Linked DNA regions of Homo sapiens. The protein of the gene in region 1 purifies or fractionates together with the protein of each later gene. This does not show direct contact. Each region holds a gene or a part of one and is shown in the gene's direction. Other genes may lie near its edges.

The links. Proteins that work in one complex are often made in the same cells at the same time.
Region 2: the proteins of PTPRE (region 1) and CSE1L purify together in Homo sapiens (affinity purification with mass spectrometry; 2 studies listed by BioGRID and IntAct, with this or other methods). This does not show direct contact.
Region 3: the proteins of PTPRE (region 1) and XPO4 purify together in Homo sapiens (affinity purification with mass spectrometry; 2 studies listed by BioGRID and IntAct, with this or other methods). This does not show direct contact.

The regions. Positions count from the first base shown.
Region 1 is NC_000010.11:128,071,082-128,078,107, forward strand, and holds part of PTPRE (receptor-type tyrosine-protein phosphatase epsilon isoform 1 precursor), read left to right. Parts: intron 1-583; coding exon of another isoform or gene 584-585; exon of another isoform or gene 586-647; intron 648-1,056; coding exon 1,057-1,133; intron 1,134-2,255; coding exon 2,256-2,390; intron 2,391-5,521; coding exon 5,522-5,647; intron 5,648-6,535; coding exon 6,536-6,702; intron 6,703-7,026. UniProt on the Homo sapiens protein: Isoform 1 plays a critical role in signaling transduction pathways and phosphoprotein network topology in red blood cells. May play a role in osteoclast formation and function.
Region 2 is NC_000020.11:49,070,303-49,077,328, forward strand, and holds part of CSE1L (exportin-2), read left to right. Parts: intron 1-1,983; coding exon 1,984-2,151; intron 2,152-2,265; coding exon 2,266-2,395; intron 2,396-4,482; coding exon 4,483-4,548; intron 4,549-5,015; coding exon 5,016-5,218; intron 5,219-6,677; coding exon 6,678-6,762; intron 6,763-7,026. UniProt on the Homo sapiens protein: Export receptor for importin-alpha. Mediates importin-alpha re-export from the nucleus to the cytoplasm after import substrates (cargos) have been released into the nucleoplasm.
Region 3 is NC_000013.11:20,780,730-20,787,755, reverse strand, and holds part of XPO4 (exportin-4), read left to right. Parts: intron 1-157; coding exon 158-275; intron 276-698; coding exon 699-791; intron 792-3,836; coding exon 3,837-4,034; 3' UTR 4,035-7,026. UniProt on the Homo sapiens protein: Mediates the nuclear export of proteins (cargos), such as EIF5A, SMAD3 and isoform M2 of PKM (PKM2). In the nucleus binds cooperatively to its cargo and to the GTPase Ran in its active GTP-bound form.

The DNA.
Region 1 (7,026 bases):
TGAAGCACCAGCTGACCCAGACAGTCCTGCATGGGTCTCAGGCAAGCTGCTTCGGATATGAGCTTGCAGATGCGGGAGGGCAGCCGAGGCTGATTTCAGGGGAGGGCTTCACAGAAGCTGGAGATTTGCGGCAGGCACGACTTGGGATTCCTTGTCTCATTCCTTGTCTCCCCAAGCCTGGGCAGAGGCCCGCCTCCCCCTTACACAGAGGGGCCTGAGCCACCCAGCCGAGGCCATGCAGGTGAACTCAGCTGAGACCACCTAGGAAAAGGCTGTGGCCTTGAGGAGGACAAGAAATGGGCCTAGGGTAGAGTCAGGACACTGGTCTGCCACCCAGGTCATGGGAGAGGGAAGGAGGACCTGGCAGGTGTGGGAGGAGTGGAGGCAAAGCTGGCAAGAAGACAGGGCCACATGCAGTGGGCAGGGGAGTGGGAATCGGGAGGCTCACCAAGTGGGAAAAAGAGAAACTTGAGAAACCCGGCCCCAAAGCAGACTCCACAGGGATCCGAGGAACTAGGGAGGGAGGTGGGAGATGCCCCGCTTGGGAGGAGGGTGTGCCTCGTTATAGACTTGTCCTCGACAGAGTCACAGCTCAACAAACACCATCTGGAAACAGCTGGGAGCAGGCCTGCTGCAGCAGGGTCTCCCCGAGCACTGCAGGCGAGTAGAGCTCCCCGGGGTGCTGCCATCTTCAGACTCTGGCCCTTGGTTTTCTGGGGCCCCGGTGTCCTGCTGGCCACTCTAGATTGCTTGCCTGGCCACATTCCATTTACTCCTTCAGCGCAATATTTTTAGTGCTTGTATTTTGGTATGTATTATATCGATTCCTGAAAAATGAAAATGATAATTGGGTGGTTTTCAGAGTTTTCCTTCAAAAAGAAAAATACCCCTGAGCCACTTTAATTATCGTCTCTCATAACGTAAACTTTCCAAAGAGTTGGCTTTACGTAGTGATTTTATTAATAGGATCTATATTTTGCAAGCTTGTAGCAATGGATTAAAGTTAGCAAGGTGGGACCCTTTTTGTAATAACTAAAGGAAGATAATGCTTTGCAGATGACTTCAACCGAGTGATCCTTTCCATGAAAAGGGGTCAAGAATACACAGACTACATCAACGCATCCTTCATAGACGTACGTATGCTGGCCTGGGTTGTGTTTATGCAGATGTGTTTCCTTCACATGTGACCACAGACTTGATTAGCTTGTTTTCACAATGAGAAAGAATTGACATGTTTCCAGAAACTCAGCCATTTTTGTTAGCAGAATTACTTGCTTAAAAAAAAAAGTGGCAAGGCACGATGGCTCACACCTGTAATCCCAACACTTTGGGAAGCTAAGGCGGGCAGATCACTTGGGGTCAGGAGTTTGAAACTAGCCTGGCCAATATGGCAAAACCCGTCTCTACTAAAAATACAAAAATTAGCTGGGCGTGATGGCAGGTGCCTGTAATCCCAGCTACTTGGGAAGCTGAGGCAGGAGAATTGCTTGAATCCGGGAGGCTGAGGTTGCAGTGAGCTGAGATTACACCACTGTACTCCAACCTGGGCAACAGAGTGAGAGCGAGACCCCCTCTCAAAAAAAAAAAAAAAAAAAAAAAAAAGTGGACTTTGGAAATAGAAGGACATAGACTCGCTGCTAAGTAATTGGCTCTTTTTTCATTCTGCTTTTAATATATAGTTATTTTTCTTTTACATATCTGTTACACACCAATTATATATCCACTGCCTCTGTGCTCTTTCTCTTGTGTGATTTCTGCAATGTGTACCCACGTGGACAATACAATTATGTGTTCAGGGCACACAGAGGCTGTCTTCATGCACAGTGGAGTTCGCAGAAGAAGGGCAAAAGGGGGAATGGCAGCCAAGTGTGTGTTCATATTGCCATTTGCAGATGAGAAAATTGTACCAGAATCCGGTGGGCTCCATGCTGATCTAGCTGAAACACACAGAAACATGTTAGAATCTAAGCCACCAGGTGCTGTTCAGGTGGCCACAGGCAACTACCAGTTCATAATACCCATTTGTTGATGACCTCAGGGGCTGACGGTGGCCGTTATGGTTTCAGATAAGCGAGCTTCTTGACCTGCTTGTCAGGTGTGTGCCTGAGTGCTCGTGCCAACTGGGGTCTGGTGCAGACCATGGAGGATGAGAGAGTTTTCCTCATTAGGCCTTAGGCTGTCCTAAACTTAGGGAGCAGGTAATGGAGCCAGGATGGAAGGAAGTCAGACTCTAACCTCTGCGCCTCCATTTGAAGGGCTACCGACAGAAGGACTATTTCATCGCCACCCAGGGGCCACTGGCACACACGGTTGAGGACTTCTGGAGGATGATCTGGGAATGGAAATCCCACACTATCGTGATGCTGACGGAGGTGCAGGAGAGAGAGCAGGTGAGGAGTGCCGCCCAGCCCGGTCCCTCCAGGGCAGCCTGTGCACCTGAGGCACTGTCCCCGTTCATTACAAATGTCCCACCTGCCATCACTGCAAACACATGGGTGAGACCAAGCCAGGACCACTAGGGAAGGAGAGAGATTGGAAATGAAAAAGGTTTCATTTCACCCTTTCCCTTTTTGGGAGTGAGGTTTAACCATAGCTACCCGCTGCCCTTTATCCTTAGCCTACATGTTATTTAACCTGCCCTGAAATTCTGCCATTTGGTATTGGCCAAGATCATAACCTGTTGAAGAAAAAGACATTTATTGACTTTTTTCAAGACATGAAGACAACAGTAAACCCAAGGTTTACCAACAATGTACATCTATCTGGGTTCTCCCCCAAGACATAACTACTGCTGTGTATTTGTGTTTTTATTTCTTTGCTCTAAAAAGGAACAGCTTTATTGTGATATAATTCACCTATAATTCATGCAATTCATCTTTTTAAAGGGTACAATTCAGTGAATTGGAGTATATTCACAGAGTTGTGCAACCACCACCACTATCTAATCTGTGATCATTTTCATCAACCCAAAAGGAAACCTCGTACCATTAACAGTCACTCCCCATTCCTTCCTTCCCCTAACCCCTGGCAACCACTAATCTGCTTCCTGACTATGGGTTTGTCTATTCTGGACATTATTATAAATGGAATCATACAGTATGTGGTCTTCCGTGATTGGGTTCTTTCACTTAGCATCATGCTTTCAAGGTTCATCTATGTTGTAGCATGAATCAGTAAATCATTCTTTTTTACTGGCAAATAGTATTTGCTTGTGTGGATATACTACACTCTGCATATCCATTCATCAGTTGATGGACATTTAGGTTGTTTCCACTTTGGAGCTATTATAAATAGTGCTGCTTTGCTTGGTGCGGTTGCTCACACCTGTAATCCCAGCCCTTTGGGAGTCCAAGGCGGGCAGATCACCTGAGGTCAGGAGTTCGCGGCCAGCCTGGCCAACATGGCAAAACCCCGCTTCTACTAAAAATACAAAAATTAGCTGGGCATGGTGGCGGGAACCTGCAATCCCAGCTACTTGGGAGGCTGAGGCAGGGAGAATCGCTTGAACCTGGGAGGCAGAGGTTGCATTGAGCTGAGATCGCGCCATTGCACTCCAGCCTGGGGGACAGAACAAGACTCTGTCTCAAAAAAAAAAAAAAAGTTTCTTGAACATTCAGGTAGTAGTTTTTGTATGGACATGCTTTTTCACTTCCCTTGGGTATACGCCTAGGAGTGTATATACTAGGAGCGGAATTGCTAGGTCACGTCATAACTCTATGTCATAAACTTACTGTTTAACATTTTTGAGGACCTGCCAGACTGTTTTCCTCAGTAGCTGCCCCATTTTACATTCCTACCAGCAATATATAAGGTTCTAATTTCTCCACATCCTCACCAACATTGTCATTGTCTTTTTGATTAAAGCCATCCTAGTGGATATGTTCTTTGCTTTTTTAAAACATCTTTTAAAATCACATCTGTTTATGCCTACGTAGACTGTTGTTTAGTTTTACTTGTGTTTGAACTTTATAGAAAGAGCATCATTACAGCATGTTGTCTTCTGAGACTTGCTTCTTCCACTCAAAATTGTGCTTTTGATATTCTATGTTGATGCTTATGCTGTGGTTCATTCGTCATCATTATTTCATTATATTCCACTGCACAAACTATATCCTGCATTAGCTCAGGTATTCCTTCTCCTGTCATGGGCACTTGAGTTGGTTTCATTTCGTTGTTTTACAAACAGTGCTACCTGTACATTCTTTTTTTAAAACTTTAAGTTCTGGAGACAAGTGCAGAATGTATAGTTTTGTTACATAGGTATACATGTGCATGGTAGTTTGCTGCACCTGTCAACCCATCATCTAGGTTTTAAGCCCTGTATGCATTAGCTATTTGTCCTAATGCTCTCCCTCCCCTCACCCTCCACCCCCCAACTGGCCCCAGTGTGTGTTGTTCCCCTCCCTGTGTCCTTGTGTTCTCCCTACCTGTATATTCTTGTACATGTCTTATGCTGCACTAGGACTAAGATGTATCAAAGAGCCAAAATGCTTCATTGAAGAGTATGTGAAAGTTTGAATTTGCAAGATAATTCCTAATTGCTTTCCAAAGTGGACATCAACAATGTATAAGAGATATCATTCATCTACATACCTAGTATGGTATTCTCAAGGTGTCCTAATTATTGTTAATTGAAAATTAACAAAATATTGTTCATTGTATAATTATTGTATAAATACTATCTTTTTGTGGCTCTGATTTGCATCATTCTGATTCCAAGGTCAACCCCATCACTTCATATATTTGTGGATGACATATTTCCTCTTGTGTCAAATGCCTGTTCCTGCCTTTCACTGATTTTTCTATTGTTTGTCCTTTCTTATTGATTTATAGGAGCTCTTTACGTAATCTTGATACTAATTCTTTATTGGTTTTATGTATTGCAAACATCTTATTGCAATCTGTGGCGTGTCTTTTCACTCTGTTAATGATGTTTGTTGATGAAGAGAAGTGAATGTTACTGTAATCCAATGTTTCAAATTGTTGCATCGTGATTGGTTAGCTGTTTGGGCTCTTGTCTAGTAATCCTTGTGTACCTCAAAGTGAAAAGATATTTCTTCTTCCAAGAGTTTCACAGTTTTGTTTTTTACCTTAAACCTTACTCCATCTGGGTGTATTTTTATTAAGGTTCAAGGCCATGACACGTGGAAGTGCAGGGTGTACACTGCCCAGTTCTAGGAAGAGCTGGGGGCACTCACATCAACCCTGGTAGGGAATGAGTCAGGGATCCAATTTCATTTTCCCCAGGTAGAAAACCAATTTTTCCAGCCCCACATATTGAAGAATCTCTCCTTTCTGCCATATGTTAAGGTTTCATATATATATGTGTCTGTTTCTAGACTCTGTTCTGTTCCCTGGGTCAACAAGCATTAACAGGCATTTATATTCATATTCATATGTTTTTTTTTTTGGTCAGATGAAATACATTAACTGGTTTGAGAACAATTCTGTGTTATAAACTCAAAATCGCCAGCAGCAAATTATTTATTACAAGACTTAAATTTTTATTTTATCCCCTAAGGATAAATGCTACCAGTATTGGCCAACCGAGGGCTCAGTTACTCATGGAGAAATAACGATTGAGATAAAGAATGATACCCTTTCAGAAGCCATCAGTATACGAGACTTTCTGGTCACTCTCAATCAGGTATTGTTGAAGTAGCTCTTTAAACGCTTGTGAATTTAGTGAACCACGCCCTCCCTCTGGGTTCTGCTTGTCATTGAACCAGAATGTGGCCCTGCACCTGTCCTGCTCCTTCACCTAGTCCCATTGGCTATGAATGGCCAATGGGTTTCAGAGACAGTGGCAGGCCTCCTGTACAATTCCCATCTCCCTAGCTGCCTACCTCCCATTTATCTCTCAGGAGAATTACATTAGCCATTAGCTGTAAGAGGAAGAACAAAGGGGACTAATGAAGCCACAGGGGCCTCTCTGGGGCCCTCCTCCAGGTGCCTTCTCAGAGCCCCCCAACTGTCCCCATTTCCACTGGGTCCTTGGTTCTGCTCATCCTCTCTCCTTGGCAAAGAATGAGAACTCGGGGTCAGCTGTAGGTAGGATGACTCACTTGTACACAGGTCTTGATGCTGAGCTCCAAACAGTCAGTATCACGTAATGCACCTGCCACTGTCTCCTCCATGCCAGCCACAGAGCCACCCTGGCCACCAGACTCAGATGCTGCTCATTTGAGCTCTGAAGGGAAATGCAGGGCCCTGGTTTCTTGAGAAAGTGATTCCCTTCTCTCCAGCAGAGCTGCCAAGGATCCCGTAGGGGTTGGGCAGTCCTCACAGGGATCCAGGGGATGTCCTCTGGACGGCTCGCTCCCCCTTGCAGAAGGAAGCACAGCCAGCCACCTGCCTTCTTCTTTAGGACAAGCAGGTTTCAGCCTTCTCCTTCAGGCTGCCTCGGTGGGGATGTTGGCAGCACAGAAGGCTCAGGGAGGGCTCCCAGCCTTGGCCAATCCCTGAGAGGGCAGATGGGGCTGGGGCCTGTTCCCCGGCAGGCAGGCGACGCTGAGACCCCCTCTCCTCCCTGCAGCCCCAGGCCCGCCAGGAGGAGCAGGTCCGAGTAGTGCGCCAGTTTCACTTCCACGGCTGGCCTGAGATCGGGATTCCCGCCGAGGGCAAAGGCATGATTGACCTCATCGCAGCCGTGCAGAAGCAGCAGCAGCAGACAGGCAACCACCCCATCACCGTGCACTGCAGGTGAGCCCCCAGCCCGAAGCCCTCCAGGTGGGGTGGACACAGGCTGCACCCCCCCAGTACCCGCAGCTGTGGGCAGCAGAGCCTGGTCGCTGCCCCTGGCCATGGTATTCCCTAGAGTCTCCTCTCTACCTCTCCTTACACACATGCACACACGACTTCACTTAAGTACATACATGTCATCGTATCATACATAAGATGCATGTGTGTCATCTTAACATAAATGCAGAATGCACTTCAGAGGGTGGAGTTGGGAAACCACTCAAACACACATTTCCATGTGCTTTTGAAGTCATCAAAAAATTGCCAGGCAGGGCTCGGAGGAAC
Region 2 (7,026 bases), on another chromosome or scaffold:
TATTTAAAATGTTGCCTGAGTGGTCTTTTTCTTTCATTAAGAGTTATTTGGCTACAGTCTGGAAACCTATTTACTCTTGCATTGTTAAAAGATAAAATTTCAATACTGTAATAATATTTGATTCTATTTGATGTTACATGTTTGGTGTGTGTAGTATACAGAATTACTCTTATCATGGGCTTGGCTTAAGCCATAGTGTACATATAAGGCTGTTTCATTACATTATTGAAAGTAGGTCTTTAAAGTAGTGACATTATGGATATTTCATGAAATAAAATTATTTTTCATTGAAGATACTAAGAAAACTTAAAACTCTATAATGGTAGCCCCTTTTTAAAAATCATCTGGCTAGGCATGGTGGTTCACACCTGTAATCCCAGCACTTTGGGCGGCCAAGGTGGGGAGGATCCCTTGAGCCCAGGAGTTCAAGACCAGCCTTGGCAATGTAAGGAGACCCCCATCACTACAAAAAATAAAAATAAAATTAGCCAGATGTGTTGGCTCATGCTAATGGTCACAGCTACTCAGAAGGCTTAGTTGTGAGGATCCCTTGACCTTGAGCCCAGGAGGGCAAGGCTGCAATGAGCTGTGACCATGCCACTGCACTCCAGCCTGGGAGACAGAGGGAGACCTCGTCTCAGAAAAAGAAAAAATTATCCACAGCTCGAGAAAGAGAGAAAATGGTAAAAGATTGTAATTTGTAAATATTTCTGATATGGGTTTTATATTGTGTACTTTTAAACATATAACACTTATTCTGTGCTACTCATTTGTTAATATATTTATGACCTTCTTTCCGAAGAGACAAAAGACAAAATATTAAAAATATTTCAATACCAAATAAACTAAAAATTAGAATTGGTGATTCAAATCAGGTTTTAAGAGTGGGGTACAGAAAGAAATTGTTACTATCGTTGTACAACAGATTTTGTCTCAGAGTTTGACTATATTAATAGGAACTTTAAAAGATGTAGCTCTCATAAAATAATTATTTCAGTCCAATGGGAGGGAAAAACACTCCTTCAGAAAACAAAACTTTTCTTCACACAAAAGTCACAAGGAAATTTTTTGGATAGAATTCTTACAAGGACCTTTTTGCCCAGTTAACCATGTGCTACCTTGTGCTACTATTTATGCCTTAAGTAATCAGTGTGAGGGAGTTTTGGTTTTGGCTTTGGTTTTTGTTCTTACTCTGATGTCTTCCCTTGTCTCACTCTGTCACCAAGGCTGGAGTGCAGTGGCATGATCATGACTTACTGCAGCTTCGACCTCCCTGGGCTCAAGTGATCCTCCCACCTCAGCCTCCCAAGTAGCAGGGACTATGGGTATGCACCACCATGCCCAGCTGATTTTTTTTATTTTGGGGGCTTGCTGTGTTGCCCAGGCTAGACTCAAAACTCCTGGGCTTGGCCCGTCGCAGTGGCCCACGCCTATAATCCCAGCACTTTGGGAGGCCGAGGCCATCCTGGCTAACACGGTGAAACCCCGTCTCTACTAAAAAAAAAAAATACAAAAATTAGCCGGGCGTGATGGCGGGTGCCTGTAGTCCCAGCTACTTGGGAGGCTGAGGCAGGAGAATGACGTGAACCCAGGAGGCGGAGCTTGCAGTGAGCTGAGATCGCGCCACTGCACTCCAGCCTGGGCAACAGAGGGAGACTGCGTCTCAAAAAAAAAAAAAAAAAACCACTCCTGGCCTCAGGCCATCCTCCAGCCTCAGCCTCCCAGAGGGTTGGGATTACCGGCGTGAGCCACTACACTCAGCCAGAATATACTGTTTGAATCTAATACGGAAATATTTTGTAATTCAGCAACTTATTTGAAAGACTTGGTGAAAAGATTGGTGGTGGCATAGCTGTAGTTTACAATAACTGATTTGATTTGGATTTAATTGATAAAGAGTCTAGTTCAGGAATTTCAGTTACTCCTCTTACTTATGTTAGCATTAGAGTTGTATGTTGGAGTTTTTGTTTTCTTTTATGTGAGGATGAAGAGGAAGCCGGCTTATTGGAGCTCTTAAAATCCCAGATTTGTGATAATGCCGCACTCTATGCACAAAAGTACGATGAAGAATTCCAGCGATACCTGCCTCGTTTTGTTACAGCCATCTGGAATTTACTAGTTACAACGGGTCAAGAGGTTAAATATGATTTGGTAAGATGATGGTGGAGACAAATAATTAAAAGACATTCTCTCCCTATCTCCTCCAAGAAATAAGCTGTTGAGTTTTGCTTTTAAAAATATTCTTGTTTTTGTGTTTTGTTCCAGTTGGTAAGTAATGCAATTCAATTTCTGGCTTCAGTTTGTGAGAGACCTCATTATAAGAATCTATTTGAGGACCAGAACACGCTGACAAGTATCTGTGAAAAGGTTATTGTGCCTAACATGGAATTTAGAGGTAATTATGGCAAAAGTATATTAGTATAAATCTACTAAGTCTGTGTTTGTTTTTTGTAACATATTCAGTCTAATTCATTTATTACTGGATAAAACTTGTATGTCATTTATTTCTTATTTTCTAAACCAAGACAGAAAATGTAGTATCTGTAATGAGTTTTGTTGTGCCCTGTGAGGGTTTTCTCATGGAAATATTAAATAAGACTTCAAAAATTCCTTTACACTAAGAAGATAAACTATCTGGAATTTCTATTTAGAGAAAGAATTTGATTTTGTTTCATTTATTATTTCAATGAATTTTTAGCTGGCTTTATTTATTTATATATTTATTTGAGACAGGGGTCTCGCTCTGTCACCCAGGCTGGAGTGCAGTGATGCAATCTTGGCTCACTGCAACCTTAGCCTCCCAGGCTCAAGTGATCCTCCTACCTCAGTCTTCTGAGTAGCTGGGACCACAGGCACACATCACCATGCCTGGCTAATTTCTTGTATTTTTGGTAGAGACAGGGTTTCACCATGTTGTTCAGGGTAGTCTCAAACTCTTGAGCTCAAGCAGTCCACCCGCTTTAGCCTCCCAAAGTGCTGGGATTGCATTTCTGAGCCACCTCGCCCAGAAATAGCTGTTTTTAAACAATCGACTTGAGAATAGAAATGATAACTTTATAAATACAAGGTTGAAGCCCACTTAGTTTGTGCTTAAGGTTAAACTATAGTGCTAAGAGCCTATATTTATAAAATGTATGTCCTTGTTCTAACAGTTGTGAAGAACAAGTAATGAAGGTGGGAGGGATTGTGTTTTTTGTTTTGGGGACAGGGTCTCACTGTGTCACCCAGGCTGGAGTGCAGTAGCACAGTTATGGCTTACTGCAACCTCAACTTCCCAGGCTCAAGTCATTGTCCCACCCTGGCCTCCTGAGTAGCTGGGACTACAGACGTGCACCACCATGCTCAGCTAGTTTTTTATTTTTTATAAAGATGGGGGTCTTCCTATGTTGCACAGGCTGGTCTCAAACTCCTAGCTTCAAACAATCCTTCTGCCTCAGCCTCTCAAAGTGCTGGGATTACAGGCATGAGCCACCATGCCAGGCCAAGATTTTGTTTTATATCAAAATAGTTATTAGATCAGTGGTTTTCAAATTACATCTGGAACAAAATAAGGAAATTAAGGACAATATAGCGTGAGATTTTATTTCCTGTTGTGTTTTCATAAAAATATGTTTAAAGGATAAATCTTCTGGCTGGGTGTGGTGGCCCATACCTTTAATCCCAACACTTTGGGAGGCTGAGGTGGGAGGAACACTTGAGCCCAGGAGTTAAAGACCAGCCTGGCCAAAATGGCAAAACCTTATCTCTACAATAAATAAATTAGTTGGGTATGGTGGCATGGGCCTGTGGTCCCAGGTACTCAAGCAGCTTAGGTGGGAGTTTTGCTTGAGCTCAGGAGGTGGAGGCTGCAGTGAGACATGATCATACAACTGCAGTGTGTGTGTGTGTGTGTGTGTGTGTGTGTGTGTGTGTGTGTAGACTTTTTTTTTTTTTTAATTTATATGATAAAAATAGAGATGAGATCTCGCTGTGTTGACCAGGCTGGTCTCAAACTCCTGGGCTCAAGCGATCCTCCCATTTCAGCCTCCCAAAGTGCTAGGTTACACGCGTGAGCCACCATGCCGGCCATTTCTGACATTGTCCACTCTACTTATTTGTTGTTGAAATGACTTTAATGAAATAATAGTGATTAAAATTAGGTTGTTGGTATTTTAATGTTCTTATTTGGTGAAATTAAAAGTTAGCATTCTGATACTGATCCCTAACATTTTTGACAGTTGCAGGTATAATCCAATTCTGGGGAAACTGTCACATTAGAACAAGTGAGCCTATCTCATAGTTGTGTGAATTACCTAATACCTCACCTTTCAGGGTAGCATTTGCTGCTCTAGATAATGATTAAGAGTATATGAAGTAGTCATCTGATGGGAACGAATTCTTTGCTGTAGAACAAGGCAGTTTTACATACTCTTCTGCATTCTCAGCTGTAAAGTACAGTGACGTCTTTTGGAGTGTTATCTGAAATATCATCTCTCCTTGTAGCTGCTGATGAAGAAGCATTTGAAGATAATTCTGAGGAGTACATAAGGAGAGATTTGGAAGGATCTGGTGTGTATCTTGGTTTTTTAGTTACTAGTCTCTTAGCAAGCCAGTTTTAAGGTGGTTCTCTTTCTAGTAAATGGGAGAAGTGGGATTGAGAATAAGAGTGTTTTTTCAGCGGGCTTTCATTGAGAACTGTTGTCTTTCTTCAACTTGTCTTAAAAAGCTCTTATATGACCTGAATGAAAATATCAAAAGTTGAATCATTTGTCTGTTCTTACATAGTATTTATCAAAATTCTGTGATTCTGTGACCTCTTTAGTTTCATTTTGATTTTGTATTTCTTGGGGGCGGGAATGTTTTTTTCATTGTTTGTGTTGCTGATAGCTATTGGGTGGCCCTTTGTTTTTCGTTCTTTTTTTTCCGTTTTACAATCGTAGCCAAATTATTCCAGGCAATTTGTTTTCTTATAAATTGGATCAGCTTGTTGGTGGTTGTTTTTTTTCCCCATAATATATTTTCTTTTCATTTCATAGATATTGATACTAGACGCAGGGCTGCTTGTGATCTGGTACGAGGATTATGCAAGTTTTTTGAGGGACCTGTGACAGGAATCTTCTCTGGTTATGTTAATTCCATGCTGCAGGAATACGCAAAAAATCCATCTGTCAACTGGAAACACAAAGATGCAGCCATCTACCTAGTGACATCTTTGGCATCAAAAGCCCAAACACAGAAGGTAAATATTTTTAATGTGGTTTTGTTTCTAAAACAGACATCAGTGACACCCACACAAGTCAAAAAGAAATAACGTCTCTGATAATAGAGCTTACTCTGCCAGATAACCTATTCTGATTAAGATTTATATAATCTCTGAAGATGGCTTTATGTTGATGTATTGAGCACTTAAGTTTCTTATAGACCAGAAAATTGATAGATGGCCACACTTGTTACCTTAGCTGAGACCCGCTGTATCAAATATGCTTAACTTAAACTTAGCTGTTCTTTAATTGAGGAAAGTTTCTTTATTGTCTATTAGTATAGTCTTATTTTACATTTTTATATTTTTGAGATGGAGTCTCACTTTGTCACCAGGCTGGAGTGCAATGGCGTGATCTCAGCTCACTGCAACCTCCACCTCCCGAGTTCGAGCGACTCTCCTGCCTCAGCGTCCCAAGTAACTGGGATTACAAGTGTGCACTACCACACCTGGCTAATTTTTGTATTTTTAGTAGAGACAAGGTTTCACCATATTGGTCAGGATGGTCTCAAATTCCTGACCTCGTGTGATCCTCACACCTCAGCCTCCCAGAGTGCTGGGATACAGGTGTGAGTCACCGTGCCTAGACAGTATAGTCTTATTTTATATTTTATACATAAGCAGGTTGTGTTTTGTTGTTGTTGTTTTGTTTTGTTTTGTTTTGAGACGGAGTTTCGCTCTTGTTGCCCAGGCTGGAGTGCAATGGCACGATCTTGGCTCACCGCAACCTCCGTTTGCCGGGTTCAAGTGATTCTCCTGCCTCAGCCTCCCGAGTAGCTGGGATTACAGGCATGCGCCACCACCCTGGCTAATTTTGTATTTGTAGTAGAGATGGGGTTTCTCCATGTTGGTCAGGCTGTTCTTGAACTCCTGACCTCAGGTGATCCACCTGCCTTGGCCTCCCAAAGTGCTGGGATTACAAGCATGAGCCACCATGCCTAGCCTAAGCAGTTCATGTTTTGAAGTGTCCCTCTCTCTCTTTTTTTTTTTTTTTTTTTTTTTTTTTGAGACGTTGTCTTGCTCTGTCATCCAGGCTGGAATGCAATGGCAACATCTCAGATTACTGCAACCTCTGCCTCCCGGGTTCAAGCAATTCTCATGCCTCAGCCTCCCGAGTAGCTAGAATTACAGGTGCATGCAACTACACCTGGCTAATTTTTTGTGTTTTTAGTAGAGACGGGGTTTTGCCATGTTGGCCAGGCTAGTCTTGAACTCCTGACTTCAAGTGATCTACCCGCCTCGGCCTCCCAAAGTGCTGGGATTACAGCCGTGAGCTCCTGTACACAGCCAGTACAGTCTCATTTTATACATAAGCAATTTGTATTTTGAAGTGTTCATCTCCATTTTAACATGGTTTTCTAAAATTGCCTGAATTTCTAATGTGATAGATATATACAGGTATTTTGTTATTTTACTATGTTATGAATTTGCTTTTCAGCATGGAATTACACAAGCAAATGAACTTGTAAACCTAACTGAGTTCTTTGTGAATCACATCCTCCCTGATTTAAAATCAGCTAATGGTGAGTTGTGAAATTCTTGCTTTTTTTACAGCTTGCCACACTATACCTGAATTCAAAAAACAGCTTCCTATCCTTGTTCCCTTTTGTTCTTTTTTTTTTTTTTTTTTTCTTTTGAGATGGTGTCTTACTCTGTTACCCAGGCTGGAGTGCAGTGGCACAGTCTCTGCTCACTGCAACTCCTGCCTCCTGGGTTCAAGCGATTCTCCTGCCTCAGCTTCCCAAGCAGCTGGGACTACAGGCACGTACCACCATGCCCGGCTAATT
Region 3 (7,026 bases), on another chromosome or scaffold:
TCCTTATATAACTCAGTGAAGATATTGCCCATGAGTCTACTTGTGTATCTGTATTCATTTCTAGAAACACTCATCCATTTAATACTAGCTATAATTTTTTTATCTTTTATAAATCGAATATATCCAATCTAGTTTGTTCTTTGACCTTCATGATCAGAATGAGTTCGGAGGTTTGCCAGCTTTGCCTGGAGGCCTTGACACCGTTAGCTGAACAGTGTGCAAAAGCACAAGAAACAGACTCACCACTTTTTCTAGCAACACGGCACTTTCTTAAGGTAAGATGTCTGTGCGGTAGGTCAGAAAATCAGCTACTTTCAAAAGTGTGGTCGGTGCACATAATTCTGCATTCAAATGAGGAAATGCTTCCATTCTTTCGGGGGCAAGGAAACCATGACTTCCTGTTCACTGTTTTTTTCTGGAGATCAGCTCTTCATGGACACATTCTCATCCTCTATTTTTTGTGTTCTTGGAAATTGATGTGGTACACATTGAGGGAATTTGATATTGTTGATTATTCAGATACCACAGCAAGTAGCAATATCTGTAAGGTATTTTTTTTAAAACATTAAGGAAAATTTCAGATTGATTTAATAAATAGAATAACAACCAACCCTCTCTTCTTCTTTTTTGGACTGGGGAGGGACTGGAGGATATATGATCATCCTATGTTTTTATTTAGAAGTCTTATGTAATTTCAGCTGGTTTTTGATATGCTGGTTTTGCAAAAGCACAACACAGAGATGACCACTGCGGCTGGCGAAGCTTTCTACACGTTGGTGTGTTTGCACCAGGTACTGGACATGCCTCTTTTCAGGGGACTCTTCTCATTCTATTTTGCAAAGAGATTGTTGAGATAGATGGTGGGTCATTAATCCCCCCTTATAGGATCTGTGACTCAGTGCTTCAGTTCTGTTTCAGTGAGGAAGTATTTCTTAGCTTCTTTATTAGCTTTCACATGTCAGTTTGTGTTTATCTGACAGCTGTTTGTCAGTTCAAAGCATTTATTTTTTGTCCTCCACCATTATGAACCATCCTTTGCAATGGTCACTGCCCCAAAGCCTGTCCTTAAACAACTGTGCTAGGAATGAGGAATACATAATGGGTGTGTGAAGAACTCATGGTTTTTTGTAAGGGAGACAGGATGGCAGACAAGGAAGAGTCTGCCTTCAGACAGTATGGAAGACAGTATTTTATTGCATATTATAGAAAACAGTATATTATTTCATTTTGTTGATCTTTTAAAGATTCTGAAGCATCACTGATAATGGGGTTAATAGAAGAGTTAGGCTAGCTTACCTGTCTCCCCACTTCTGATCGAATAGGTGCCTGTGAAATTTATGAAAAGGACCGTATTGAACAGTTTGCTGCCTCTGTTTCCCCTTTTCCTCTCCCATGCATATATATACACACATATATATGTAAGGTACATATATATATATATATATATACACACACACGTATATATATATATACCTCCCAGCATGGCCAAGAAGCTTTGGCGTTTTATTTCCATCTTTAAAAAAGGGTTTAGAGGAGGTCTTCCATACTATTTAAAGACCTCCTTTCTCTAGACTTCCCGTAACATCTGTGCCCTAAGCTGAAGGTGCCCTGGGGCTTCATTTCTTGCTCTCTGCCCTAGGCTGCCACTTCCTGCAGGTGGTACCTGCTCTCAAATCTGTGCCCTTTCTCTGTCATTTGTCTTACTTGTTGCTTACTAGCAAGGTAGTCGTCTTGTCTGATCCTTCCTTCCTTCCTTCCTTCCTTCCTTCCTTCCTTCCTCTCTTTTTCTTTTCTTTTTTCTATCTTTTTCTTTCATTTTTCTTTTCTTTCCTTTCTTCCTTCCTTCCTCCCTCCTCTTTCTTTCTTTCTCCCTCCCTCCCTCCCTCCTTTCCTCCCCCGTTCCCTTCCACCCTCTTGTCTCTTCCTCCCTTCCTTTCTTCCTTCCTTCCTTCTCTTCCTTTATTTCTCTCTCTCCCTCTCTTTTAACATATTTACACACTGCAGGAAAGAGCAGGTTTCAGGAATGGCCAGTATGATACTTGCTGCCTGGCCCCAGAGGCTCTACTATCTCGCTTTTTTTTTTTTTCTGAGACAGGGTCTCACTTTATTATTACCCAGGCTGGAGTGCAGTGGTGCAATTACTGCTAACTCCTGCCTCGGCCTCCTGGCCTCAAGCAATCCTCCCGCCTCAGCTCCCCAAGTAGCTGGGACTACAGGTGTGCACCACCACACCTGGCTTATTTTTTGTAGAGACGGAGTTTCACCATGTTGCCCAGGCTTGTATCGAACTCCTGAACTTAAGCAATCCACTCGCCTCGGCCTCCCAAAGTGCCTAGGATTACAGGTGTGAGCCACCATGCCTTGCCACCTCTACCATTTCTCATGAGTAGGGAAATGATAGGAGATTATACTTGGTCCCCTGTGAACAGGACTGTCCCTTTGATAAGGCAATTAGGGGAGCCACTCTGGCTCCATGGTTGGGGATTGGGATGCTGCACCTTATCCTTCTTTTCCAAATGTAATTAACATTTGGTTTCACCATTTTGGTCTATCATGATATCCCAAGAAGCCAATGAAAAATTACAGCATGCCAGGTGCAGTGGCTCATGCTTGTAATTTTTGCACTTTGGGAGACCAAGGTGGGTGGATTGATTGAGGCTGGGAGCTTGAGACCAGCCTGCTCAACATTGCAGAACCCTGTCCCTACTAAAAATTCAAAAATTAGCCAGGGATGGTGGTGCATGCCTGTAGTCCCAGGCTCTTAGGAGGCTGAGGTAGGAGGATCACTTGAACCCAGGAAACAGAGGTTGCAGTGAGACAGGATCTCACTCTGTTGCCCAGGCTGGAGTGCAGTGGAGCAACCATGGCTCACTGCAGCCTCAACCTCTTGGGCTCAAGCGATCTCCCATCTCAGCCTCCCAAGTAGCTGGGACTACAGCTGTGCACCACCACAACTGCCTAATTTTTAAATTTTTTGTAGAGGTGGGATCTCACTGTGTTGCTCAGGCTGGTCTCAAATTCCCGGGCTCAAACAGTCATCCCTCCTCAGCCTCCCAAAGTGCTGGCATTAAAGGCCTGAGCCACTATGCTTGGCCAGGCCAGCTTTTTTTGAGAGCTTACCTCTGTCCTGGTTGAATTTCCCTTAAGCCCACACCTTCTTCCACTTTCCTTTATAAGGCTTTATAATAGAGTATTAAAAACAGAAAATTTCCCATATTCCTATATTTACTAAAGTCCTCTTCCTGCCCTTTCTCTAAGAGCTGCTGGGCACAGTGCTGGTTTGGAGCTTTCAGAGTGCCCTGCTCCACTTGGAGAAGGCACTGGAATATATTTCTCCGCCCCGTCCTCCCAAAAGACTCCTGCCTGTCCTGTCTTTGTGCACATTGCTGTCCTCAGAACTGGGTGGACCAGATATCTCTATTAACCTCTGGGGAACTATTGCAGACTTAGATTATGTGTCAAACGCAACATAAATAGGAATAATGTGCTTTGAAGAGGCAGCACAACAAAGTTGATTATCACATGGGTCTTGGGGCTAGATTGGTGGACTCTTGCTTGATCTGGGCCATATCACTTCACCTCACTGAGTGTCGAAACCTTCACCTCTGGAATGGGAATAGAAACAGTACCTGTCTCGAAGCATTGTTGTAAATGATAGATGAATTAATCCATGTAAAAGGTTTTCAAACAGTAGTACTTAAATGCTGAATTATTCTAAATGTTAACTCTTAAAAATGTGTCCCTGCCTTTTAGAACCCCACAGTCCAGTAACTGATAAGATCTACTTGTATGATATTCTAAGGAGGATACTTGTGTATACTTTATCTCTTCAATAGGCTGAATATTCTGAACTGGTCGAAACATTACTATCAAGTCAGCAAGACCCAGTTATTTACCAGAGATTAGCAGATGCCTTCAACAAGCTCACTGCAAGCAGCACTCCTCCTACGCTGGATCGGAAGCAGAAGATGGCCTTCTTAAAGAGTTTAGAAGAATTTATGGCAAATGTTGGTGGTCTCCTTTGTGTAAAATAAACAACAGAACTTTATGCTTAATTTAGATCCTTTCTGCAAAGTGCACTGAATTGCTGAAAGTTGACTTGAGTCTTGTCCTATTCCTCAGTTCATTTGGCCATTTTGGATTTTGGAGAGCCTGAAACTTTGATATGTATGTAATACAGTGAAACAGGAGAGGTCAACTTGGCATCAGCTTCTGCTGTTAAGTGTTAGCCACAATCTGTCATATATATGTCTTTTAGATTCTGAATGGTGATTTAAAATTTTCAAAATGAAATTCCATATATGTGCAAACAGATATGGGCACCACGAAATACATATGCAGTGCCTTTTTTCCTTTTAACATAGGTGGCTAGCCAAAGTTTAGAATTTTTGTCATTAAATATGAAATGGATATATGCTAGGCAGTGTTTCTCAAAATCTCCATAGATCGCCTGCATCACTTGAGGAGCTGGTGAAAAGGCAGATTCTTAGGCCCAACTGTAGACCTTCAGAGTCAGAATGTCTGGTTGTTGGGCCCAGGAGTCTTCATGTTAATAAGCTTCTCCCTTTCGTCACCCCAAAAGTTTTGAATCAATGAAAGAGACATTGAAAACTCTTAAGAGGTTTTGTGCTTTCTAGCTTTTCCTCCCTTTGATGATTGGGTTTTATAATTCAGCAGGAAGGGGAAACATCACCAGGGGTTTGTTGGCTTTTTCTTAGCTTGCTTTCTTGCTTGCTTGCTTTCTTGCTTTTCTTGCTTTCTGTCTCTCTCTTTCTTTTCTCTCTCTCTCTCACATCAACCCAGTGCTGCAGGTTTTGTGTAATACAAGTCACTAATCATACTCTGATGCCTGAACTTGAGGAGGAAAATACATGTATATTTTTGTTCCGTAAAAATAACCTTAGGAACTGTAGCCATTTCATTGCCTTAATTTTAAGAGGAAAATACAAAAACAGCTGATTTGTTTTAGTAAGAAACCACGTCTTGATGCTTCAGAGTTGGTTTAGGGTGTTAGCTGCTATGAACCTGTTGCCCCTTTCGATCGTGTATTTATGTAGGTTTATCAGTGAAATGAAAGGCTTGTTTCCGTCTAGTCTAACTTTTTGAGTGTGTTTCTATCCAGCCACATAGCCCATATCTACTCTAAATGGCTTGCTTAAGCAATAATTATTTTAAAGGATGTGAATCACTGATTCACACAGACTATTGCACGTTGGGGCATTAGGGGCAATAATTCTTATCCAGACATGGGAGCCAGTGAATTTAATTTCAGAGATTAAAAATTCACTTTAGATCCTCTAGTTTGATCTCTTAATCAGGATTTTTATACAGCTGCCAGGCTCCCCTAATTCAGTGTGCCAGCTTACAATGTGGAAATGAAAGCTAATTTATACACAGCAGGCATATGAAACTCCACTCATTGCAGTACTTTCACAGCACAGTGACAGGTAGAGGACTCTGGCACAGGTGCACTCATGAAACTCTGCTTCCACCATGTTCCTGACACCTATCTATTAAACCATTCTGCAAATACGGTTTTTCTACCTGATTGCATATAGCATATGTGTCATTACATGTGATGCTGTGCAAAACTTTGTATAATTCTGTGTTATTAACAGTTAACAAAACTGGAGCATCTGAATTACATCCAACCTGTGCATGTGATGTTAGGTAGATGTGAATGCAGGGCCTTGGGCCATAACTTACATTTCTCTCAATTTGATTAGCTTTGAGTCACAATTAAGGGGAAGCAAAAACATCTTGAAAAGACTGCTAGGAAGGAAATTAATATCAGTCATCCAGAAGTACACGTTTCTGTATTTTAAAAAATACTTTGATGCATTTATTTTTAGGTGTTTTTTTTTTCCCCTTAAAAAACTTGAAGTGATATGCAGCAGTAATCTATTTGTTTTGCATTGTTCTTGGTGTTTTGTGTTTCCCAGATCCCTCAAGCTTTCTCAGCTGTTGTGAATTATGTGTATCTGTGTGTGTGCTAAGTACAGTCTCTTTACCAAAGGGCACTGAAACACACAATTGACTGGACAGGTCCACGCGCCATGACAAAACTATAATCAAGTTATTAAAACTAAAGAGGAGTGGGAAAGGAATGCCTTGGTAAGTAAAAAGGCATCTATATTTAATAACTTTTATCCAGATGGCAACATATTTGCAAAATTTGCCCAGATCCTATTACAATACTAAAAATAGAAAATTTCACCTCCATATTCCTGAGGTGTAATTTCATTAGACTAGTTTTAGTTTAAAAAGACCTTCTTCAGATTGGACCAAATAATACTTATAAGATCAGCAGAATGTTGAATATTAGCTCACTGGGGTGGGGAGAAGCCACTACCATTTTTTAGGTGATGGGGATGCCACTGAGTTGCAACGGCTAGACCTTTTCAGGGTGGTTGTGTCCATGTTTGCCTGATTGGATGCTTATTCACTTTGTGTTTTCTTTTGTTTTATTTTGTCCAATTTTGTCTTTAGCTGTGTTTATTAACTTCTCCGGTCTTGTTTTGTTTTAATGCTCTTGGCCCAGTGGGTGTCAAGAACACTGGCTTAATTCAAGTCAGTTGATTTTTTTTCTATTAAAACTGTTGTTAAAATATTTTTTAAAACAAAAACATTATTTGTGCCCTCTTTTATATATGTCAAAGGGACACTGTCAAGTATTTCATTTTTAGATTTTTGTTTTATAAAATTTCTGTTGTTCATATAGTATCCTTTAACCTCTAGTTTTCCATACATCCTTTGTTTGTTTCTCATTTTATTTTCCTTGACCCATTTATTTCCCAAGGCACAATCACTAAAGACTTTGTACTTTCACAGTCTGTTAATGTGGTAGCACCTGTAACTGTGTTCTTGTTCTGTTAAAAGGATTGATTTGCTTTTATAGTCCTTGTGCTGGATGAGTGGCTGCCTCAGTAGCAAAACTACCTGACAGTATTTGACAGTGTCCTTTCCAGCACCATTATTTGGGTCTTTCAGGGTGGCCATCTCTGTTAGAAGACAGTAGCATGTTAA